Regions from separate parts of the Homo sapiens genome. Here region 1 is linked to region 2. Evidence: fine-mapped expression QTL. A gene starts in region 2. The other region holds a variant in brackets. All regions are shown on one strand. Distances are between the middles of the regions. Region 1 has its middle 28 kb from the start of PDP1. Region 2 holds the start of PDP1 (pyruvate dehydrogenase phosphatase catalytic subunit 1).

Region 1 (4,392 bases), 28 kb after region 2:
CACTGGGGACCCGCCCCTATCTGCCTAGGCATTTGGCTGCTTCCTGTCGTTATCATTGGTACGGAGATATTACAGTATTGCTGAGCTGTTTTTGAATTCCATGCACAAGCACTCTGATCTGGATCCGCACCACCGTGCACCAAACCGCTACGCTTGGTAATGGGTTCTACTTTGTGTGCACTTTGCTCATCATACAGAATGGATTTCTGTGTCTTCTCAGTGCTAATACCACACCATTTGCAGCTGTAATTCCCACTGAAGGGGCTCCTCCCACTACAGCAGCTAAAGCATATTCAGTGTGGACAAGTGTACCAGATGGGCTGAGTGTAGTCAGCAAGAAGCTGTACCTGTGCTCTGCCATCTTTACCTGGAGAGCCAAAGCACATCCCCTCACTTTTCTTCTCTGGCTCCCAACCTGACTTTAACTGTGTTTTCCCTCCGTGCCTCTGTGCAAAATACCAAACACAAGTACTGGAGATCCAATTCCAGAATGGCAGTGTGAGAAGTTTCTCGGACCTGCTTCCCAGTGAAACATCAGTAATTGGTGAAAATTATTAGGAGAAAAACCCCAACACTTAGAGTCACTGGAGATTGTCCAGAGAACATACAGCAAATGAATAAATATTTATTCAAGTAAATCTACTAAATTTTGGACAGTGAGAGTCTGCGACACTTGATCTGCTCCCTGCCTCCCGCTACCCTCAAACTCCATGTGATGGAAGATCCACTGCAGGTTGGGTGGCCAAGAATATGGAGACCCAGCTCCCAGTCTCTCCCAGAGTTCAGGCTGCCAGCATTTCTCTCATCCCCTTCTCCATGTGGCAGAGGCTAAATTCTCAGTGAGTACAGCCAAAGAGGTGGGGACTCCTGTCCTTCACTCAGCTCTCTACTGCTACCCTAGACATGACAGGTTGAAAACACTAGGCCCCAGTTGCTTTTGCCCCGGCTTGCTTTTAGGGCAGATGTTGCTCACTGGAAGAACCAAGCCAAGAAAACTAGATGCTACTGCTCCTGTCCAGCATGCTGCTCATAAAACAAGGGTGTCATTTTGAAAGAAGTGTGCCACTGTCCCCACCCCCAGCTCCGGAGCAATGGTACAGAGGTTTTGCCCAGGGAGAGCAGGCCATAAGAAGAGAGAGCTCTGGCTGGGCACGATGGCTTATGCCAGCACTCCTAGCACTTTGGGAGGCTGAAGCAGGCAGATTGCTTGACCTTAGGAGTTCAAGCCCAGCCTGGGCAACATGGCAAAACCCTGCCTCTACAAAAAATACAAAAAAAATAGCTGGGTGTGTGGTGCATGCCTGTAGTCTCAGCTACTTGAGGAGCTGAGGTGGGAGGATTGCTTGAGCCCAGGAGGTCAAGGCTGAAGTGAGCTGCAATCACACCACTGCACCCCATCCTAGGTGACAAAGTGAGACCTTGACTCTAAATAAATAAATAAGAGAGAGAGAGAGCATGAGCTCTGAGCTATCTTTAAATAAATTGACTTTATCTTAAGCAAAATGTGAGGAAGTTGATGCCTGAGGGCTCTCTGGAAAACAATGGAAGTTAAGGTGATAAGCAATTAAGAGGAGGCTGGTAGCCCCAGGGGAGCTATGAGCTAACACAGGTCAGCTGATTTACCAAAGAGACAAGGGGAGGGGTAGGGGAGAAAGCTAAGAAGATCCTTCCTGGGGTTGGAACAAACCTCAAAGACTAGCCTCAAAAACCACTCCTGCAAATAGGCCCAGATTTAATTGGATCCAACGGTAATTTATGCTGCAGGACATCCAGGACATTATCAAAAACAATAGAGCAATCAACATGCAATTAGTGGAGCCTAACAGCTGGATGTGATACCAACAGAGGCAGACAGCTTAACAGAGAGATCAGGGAAAGACGCAAAGAAAGCCCTGCTAAAATCACTGTCACTTCTGGGTGACTGTGCAAATGTCCAAGATCATGTCCTCTGAAGATCAACTTCAGAGGCTTCACTGTGGAGAAAATAGACTTTCCTGAAATAGCCCTG[A/C]CATGTCACTAAAAAATAAGAAAACAACAAAAAGTAGCTCTATAGGTTTGTAGGGAAGAATCAGTATATAGCATTCTTAAAATATATTATTCAATTGTCTAGTTTTCAACAAAAAAAGGCAAGATATGCAAAGAATCAGGAAACTGTGACTCACACACAGAGGGGAAAAAAAGCAGACAACCAAAACTGCCTGTCAGAAGGCCCATATGTCAGACTTGACAAAGACTTCAAACTAGTTATAATAAATATGTTCAAAGAACTAAAGGAAACTATGCTTAAAGAAGTAAAGAATAATATGATGACAATCTCATCAAATAGAGACTAGCAATAAAGATATATATGTCAACCAATAATTTGGTTGTTACACATTTTAACTCAAGAATTTTCATTTGGTTCTTTACATGCATATGTGTATATATATATATATACATATACATACATACACACACATACACATATATATTTATTTAAATACATAAATTTATATTACACATAGTGCAGCATATGCAAAGATGTATATATGTAATATCAGTTTATGTATTTACATAAATGTGTATATATGTACATATACATATATGTATGTATGTTTATATGTAAATAATGAACCAAATCAAAATTCTAGAGTTGAAATGTAAAACACCAAGGTGAAAAATTTACTAGAGGGCCTCAAGAGTAGATTTGGCAGAACAAAGAATCAGCAAACTTGAAGATAGATCAATAGAGATAAGGCAGCCTGAAGAGTGGAGAAGGAAAAAAAAAGAAAATAATGAATATGAACAGATTATTAGAGAAATGTTGGACATCATTAAATGCACCAAAATATGCATGACTGGAGTACCAGAATAAGAGGAGAGAGAGAAAAAGTAACAGAAAAAACACATTTAAAAAACTTGTGGCTTAAAAGTTCCCAAATTTGATGTAAAACATTAATCTTGAAAAACAACCTGGTGAGAGAATAACACATTTGGAGGACTCACATCCCTATTTCAAAACTTAATACAAAGCTATAGTAATCAAGACTGTGTGATACTGGCATATGGATAGACATACAGATCAATAGAATTTAAATGAGAGTCCAGAAATAAACTTTCATATTTATAGTCAATTGATTTCTAGCAAGGGTGCCAAGACAATTCAGTTGGGGGAAAGGCAGTCTTTTCAACAAATCGTGCTAGTACAACTGTAAAGCCTCATGCAATACAATGAAGTTGGATCCTTTCTTACTTCATACACAGAAATGGACTCAGTATGAATCATGGAGCTAAATGTGAAAGATAAAACTATAAAATTCTTAGGAGAAAATATAGGAGTAAATCTTTGTGACCTTGCATTATGCTAAGCCCTCTTAGATTGATGCCAGAAGTACAAGTGACAAAGTAAATGATAAATTGGACTTCATCAATATTAAAATTTTGGGCTTCAATGGACATCATTAGATTGGATAAAATATTTCTAATTTGACATCCACAGAATTGATATTTATAAATCATATATATGGTAAATGACTTGTATTTATTAGATATCGACAGAGTCTCTCTTGGTCACCCAGGCTGGAGTACAGTGGCACGATCATAACTCACTGCAGCCTCTACTCCTGGGTTCAAGTGATCCTCTTGCCTCAGCCTCCCGAGTAGCTGGGACTACAGGCACACACCACCATGACTAGCTAACTTAAAAAAAATTTTTGTACAGACAGGGTCTCCCTGTGTTGCCCAGGCTGGTCTTGAACTCCTGTTCTCAAGTGATCTTTCTGCCTCAGCCTCCCAAAACACTGGGATTACAGGTATGAGCCACTGAGCCTGGCCAATGATTTTTTTTGAATTATGTCTTTCTCTCAATGCTGCTGATATGACAGGAGCAACATTAATTAGTTTCCTTGTACTCTCTTCTTGACACATGTAAAGACTCATCTATCCCATGAAGCTTTTTTTTTCTTTTCAAGCAGTGCTATGTTACATTAGAATATCTTCTTGCAGAGAGGTTACAAGATCCTGTATTATTGTTTGATACTTTTTATGTATTGAATTTGATGATATTAATGTCTGCATATCAACTACAGCACTTTTTATTATTATTATTATACTTTAAGTTCTGGGATACATGTGCAGAATGTTCAGGTTTGTTACATAGGTATACATGTACCATGGTGGTTTGCTGCACCCATCAATCTGTCATCTACAATAGGTATTTCTCCTAATGCTATCCCTCCCCTAGCCCCCAACCTCCTGACAGGCCCTGGTGTGTGATGTTCCCCTCCCTGTGTCCATGTGTTCTCATTGTTTAACTTCCACTTATGAGTGACAGCATGCGGTGTTTGGTTTTCAGTTTCTGTGTTAGTTTGATGAGAATGATGGTTTGCAGCTTCATCCATGTCCCTGCAAAGG
Region 2 (4,392 bases):
CCAGGCTGGAGTGCAGTGCTGCAATCTCAGCTCACTGCAACCTCCACCTCCCAGATTCAAGCAATTCTCCTGCCTCAGCCTCCCAAGTAGCTGGGATTACAGATGCCTACCACCACACCCGGCTAATTTTTTGTATTTTTAGTAGAGATAGGGTTTCACCATGTTGGCCAGGCTGGTCTCAAACTCCTGTCCTCAAGCAATCCACCTGTCTTGGCCTCCCAAAGTGCTGGGATTACAGGTGTGAGCCACCGCACCTGGCCTGGATGTTGGATTCTTACTACTCTATTTCACAACCATTAAAAAAAAAAGCTTTTTGTTTTTTTTGAGACGGGAACTTGCTTACTCGCCTAGGCTGGAGTGCAGTGATGCATCACTGCTTACAGCAGCCTCAGCTTCCTGGGATCAGGCAAGCCTCCTGAGTAGCAGAGACTATAGGCAGGCGCCACCACACCCAGCTAATTGCTTTTTAGATTCTTTGTAGAGATGAGGTCTATGTTGCTCAGGCTGGTCTCTGGGCTCAAGCAATTCTTCCGCCCCGGCCTCCCAAAGTGCTGGGATTACAGGCAGGAGCCCACCAAGCCTGGCCAGGAAAAAGTTGATAAGACAACAGAGAAGTCTAGTATGTACTTCATTTCTGGGTCATAAAGCAGAAACTCTTAAAATTCCACTCACAGCTTCAGTTAAGTGGGTCTCTATGTCCACAAAGTAAGGGTTAAGAGGCAGAGATCCTCTATATAAATGAATTTAAACTGATATTCTAAGGTTCAAAGATTCTCCATTCTATTAATAACTTATTAGTACCTAACAATAGAATATAATGCACTTGGGGGCCTGGGTCTCCTACTTGCTAGGAGTTCTTAATCTAAAACACTGACCTGGACATGTCGATAATATCAAGAATAGCTAACACTTATATAACACTACATGCTATGTACTTTCTTAGCAAGCTATATATGTCAACTCTCTTAATACAGCCCTGCTATTACTTTTTACATTTTTATCTTATATGTGAGAGAATGAGGCATGCAGAGTTGCCCATGACCACACAGAAAGCTGCAGAGCTGGGAATGGAACCCAGCCAGCTTGGCTCCAGCTGCACTCTTAATCACTAGGCTACACCATCCTATGCATCTATGAAGAAGAAACCAGATACTTAAATTAAATGACAGGAAGAGTAGTGGAGAATATTTGCAATTTATGGGAAGCCCATTTGAGAAGCAAAAAGGAGAGGATGAAGGGAGGCAGATGGACCTGTAAAAACTGGGATGAAGGCCAGACAGACTAGCCACAAAAGTTCCATGGGTAACCTGGGGATGGGCAAAAACAGTCTCCTCTAGTTTATTTAGAGAACAGAGAATACAGCAACTTGAAAGATCCAGGAGTTATAAAGGACCAGTTTGGGTATATAACGTTTTTTATTACATAAAAAGAAATTCACTCCACATCATTTTGTGAACCTGACTGGCTAGTAAGAAGTTATGTGTAATAAATCAAAGTCAACTTATTGGTGAACACTAGGGAAGATAAGTGCAATGCTCTATCTGCCACTGCCAAGGAAGCTTTCAGAAGCCACTATCCCATAAAAGGGATGTATGGATGTAAGTCACTGAAGAGCCCTCGAAGATATCTTGTTTTACCACAGACAATACCAATGCCACCTTAAGTCTAATCTCATCTGAGGTGGAAACAATCTCATGGAACAGAAATGGGACTTAGAGCAGGGAATGACTTGGATGAAAGTTTTCTGACTCCAAGTCCAGTGTTCTCTCCTTGTAACCATTCAGGGCAACGGAAACAATACTGATTTCAAAACTCCTCAGAGAACGTGAGCACACATCTACGCTACAGAGATAATTCCCTCATCACAACTCCCTCTTGCTGCTGTCTACACCTGCTTCCTCTCCCTGGGGCGATAGAAAACATGATGGGCGTTAATGCTCCTAAAATCTGCAACGTATCAAACGAACGAAGCAACAGCTACTCTCGAGGTTCTTTGCTACGCCTTGTACCGCAGGCTGGGGTGAGCCGCAGGGAGTTGAGGTTCCCGTGAGGCTGGGAGCCGCTCCCGCAGCCTACCCTGGGAAGCCCGCACCCAACCGCGAGGCGCAGGGGAGGCTTGGCCGCTGGGCCGGCCACCCACACCACCGCATCCCCGCAGAGGTGCCAGAGATTCTAGGAAGCCTGCACGACAGGGGAGCAGCCCGTTCCTCGGGCCCCATGCACGCGAAGACATTGGAGCCGGCCCAGGCGCCTCCCCTCTCCCGACCCCGCAGCCTGCTCAGCCAACACCGCCGAGCTCCACAGACCACCGCTCCCTAGCGCCGCGCAGCCACACCTTCCACTCGCTGGGGGCGGGGGGGGGGGGGTCACGTGAGGCGGGCCCGGGGAACCAATGGGCGGCTCGCGCCGAATGGAAGGGATTGTCTGACCCCCGTGACGTCACAAAGCTGGCGGGGAGCGCGCTCCTCTTCCGCCCCCGCCCCACCCCCGGCCGCAGCCCTCTCCGCCTCCCCTCCCACTCGTCACTGCGCAGCCAATCGGCAGGCGGGAAGCACTCCGGCCCGAACGTGCGGGCGGGGCAGGGTGGCGGCCCCGCACGGTAGGGGAGCAGAGTGGGCAGGCCGGGGGTGAGGGCTCGCGCTCCGGGAGCTGCACGGGGCTGCGTGGAAAGAGCGCCGAGCGGTGGCGTCGTTGTCGCCCCCTCCTCGTCGGGAAGAATCGTTTGGTCTCCTGCCGTGCCCGGTTCGTATTCCCTACTCCCTGCCACGAGCCGCCCCGTCCGGGATCCTCCACCCGTCCAAAGTTGTGAGGGGGCGCCGGGCGTGCTCGCGGATCGGCGGCCGCGGGCGTGCGGAGGGCTGGACGAGCCCTGGAGCGCCAGGTGCGCGCCGGGCGTCCGGGCTGTGGGGCGGGCGTGGCGGCGCTGGGGGCCGTCGGGGGGCTGGGGGCGGGGGCGGGGGCGCCGTGCAGCCCTAGCGTCTTCCGGCCCCTGCGCTCCAGCTGTCAGCACGAAGGGCGCCGCGGGGCCGGCGGCAGAGTGAGCTCCAGGGAGGCTGTAGGGCTGCGGCACTGCCTGAGGGTCTCCCTGACGCACCCCGGGTCAGGGCTGGCCCCGCTGGCAGCCTGACACCGGCCGGCCCCTGTTCGTCTGGACTGAAACGGGCACCCCTGGGGCGGGGCCGGGCCGGGCAGGGCGGGGCGGGCAGCGGGCGGGGCTGCAGTCCATGGGCTTCGCGCCCCGGCTGGATGGAGGGGCTGGCCCTCGGGGCGCACCCCTGCTCGCGCCTGGGCCCCGCTGCCTTGGGCTGTGGCTTTGCCTCCCCGGCGGGGTGGGTTGGTTTGGTTGGCTTCCTTGTTCTCTCCACCCCTTTATCCCTCCTCCATCCTCTTCCCCCCCACCTCCCAGCCCATTCACCGGGCTGGAGCGAGACCTCGCCCCTCCTCCGCTCCCGCCTCCCCGCCGCCGCCTCCTCTAATGAGCATCTCTGCCTTGCTTTCAATGGGCCGGTGCTGCTGTCGCTGCTGCTGCCCGCGCGGGTTGTGGATGTTGTCGGCTCCGTGTTGTGATGACAGGAGAATGTGTGTGTGTCCCGGGCCCAGACGAATTGGTAGGTATTCACTTAACTACCTGCGTTGGGTACCCAGGAAGGATGGTGACAGATTTTTGTGTATGGATGGTTTTAGATGAATCAGCGTGGTATTAAGGGATGAGATAGATTGGAAAAAGGGACAAACGCGTCTTGGATTGAGATAGCTTTGATGTCTTTGTGAGTGCAGTTTTTCAGGTAGCGACAAAGGAAACTAATCAAAAAAATACTGGCGTGTGGTGCTTCGTATCTTTCTTCATTTATGTAAAAAGATAGCAGGAGCTGTGAAATGGCTAGGCATTTCCAGAAAAATGTTGAAAAATCGCGGATGGTCTTTATGTAGAGTGTTTAATGCAATCGGATTACATAAACTGGGGTTCCGACACATTAAATGATTAGCATAGCTTTTCTTTTTCATTTACATCAGAAGCTTTGCAAAGCTAAAGGGCTCTGGAGTCGGTGCCTTAATAGCATTTGCTAATTAATTTGGTCCGTGGGTCTATTGATGGAGTGGAAAAAATGTCTTGGCACAGGCTCTGCTAAGCACATCAGTAAGAATGGACGGCTCTCTTTCCTGTTTCTGGTTGCAGTGCATCTTTCTTTATTAGTCATTGGCAAAATCAGCCCAATCTGCCTGGGATGAAGATGCTACATACAACGTGGCTGAGTCTAGATCATGGAATAGGAAATTTTCCGTGAAAATTGTGATCAAGAATAACTTGCAAATTTGACACTGCTCTGTTTTACCAACAGTTGTACCTGGATGCTGTTCTTATTGCCTGATCAAGAGCCTTCTACACTAATT

The links. PIP is the estimated chance that this variant, and not a neighbour inherited with it, causes the effect.
Region 1: its variant is the best candidate, but not a certain one, in a credible set for the expression of PDP1 in lung (TOPMed, PIP 0.79).

The regions. Positions count from the first base shown.
Region 1 is chr8:93,942,517-93,946,908 of GRCh38, forward strand. It overlaps the pseudogene PSMA2P2. Among named protein-coding and RNA genes, the nearest start is that of PDP1, 28 kb to the left of the region's middle. The variant A/C (reference allele first, on the strand shown) is at 2,009.
Region 2 is chr8:93,914,338-93,918,729 of GRCh38, forward strand. PDP1 (pyruvate dehydrogenase phosphatase catalytic subunit 1) reads left to right here and starts at 2,586. Exons shown (of 2, transcript NM_018444.4): 1 at 2,586-2,742. It overlaps MIR378D2HG (MIR378D2 host gene), which reads right to left and starts at 2,307. Exons shown (of 1, transcript NR_170280.1): 1 at 1,397-2,307. It overlaps MIR378D2 (microRNA 378d-2), which reads right to left and starts at 1,782; the gene lies at 1,685-1,782. RefSeq lists silencers at 2,327-2,666, 2,797-3,526.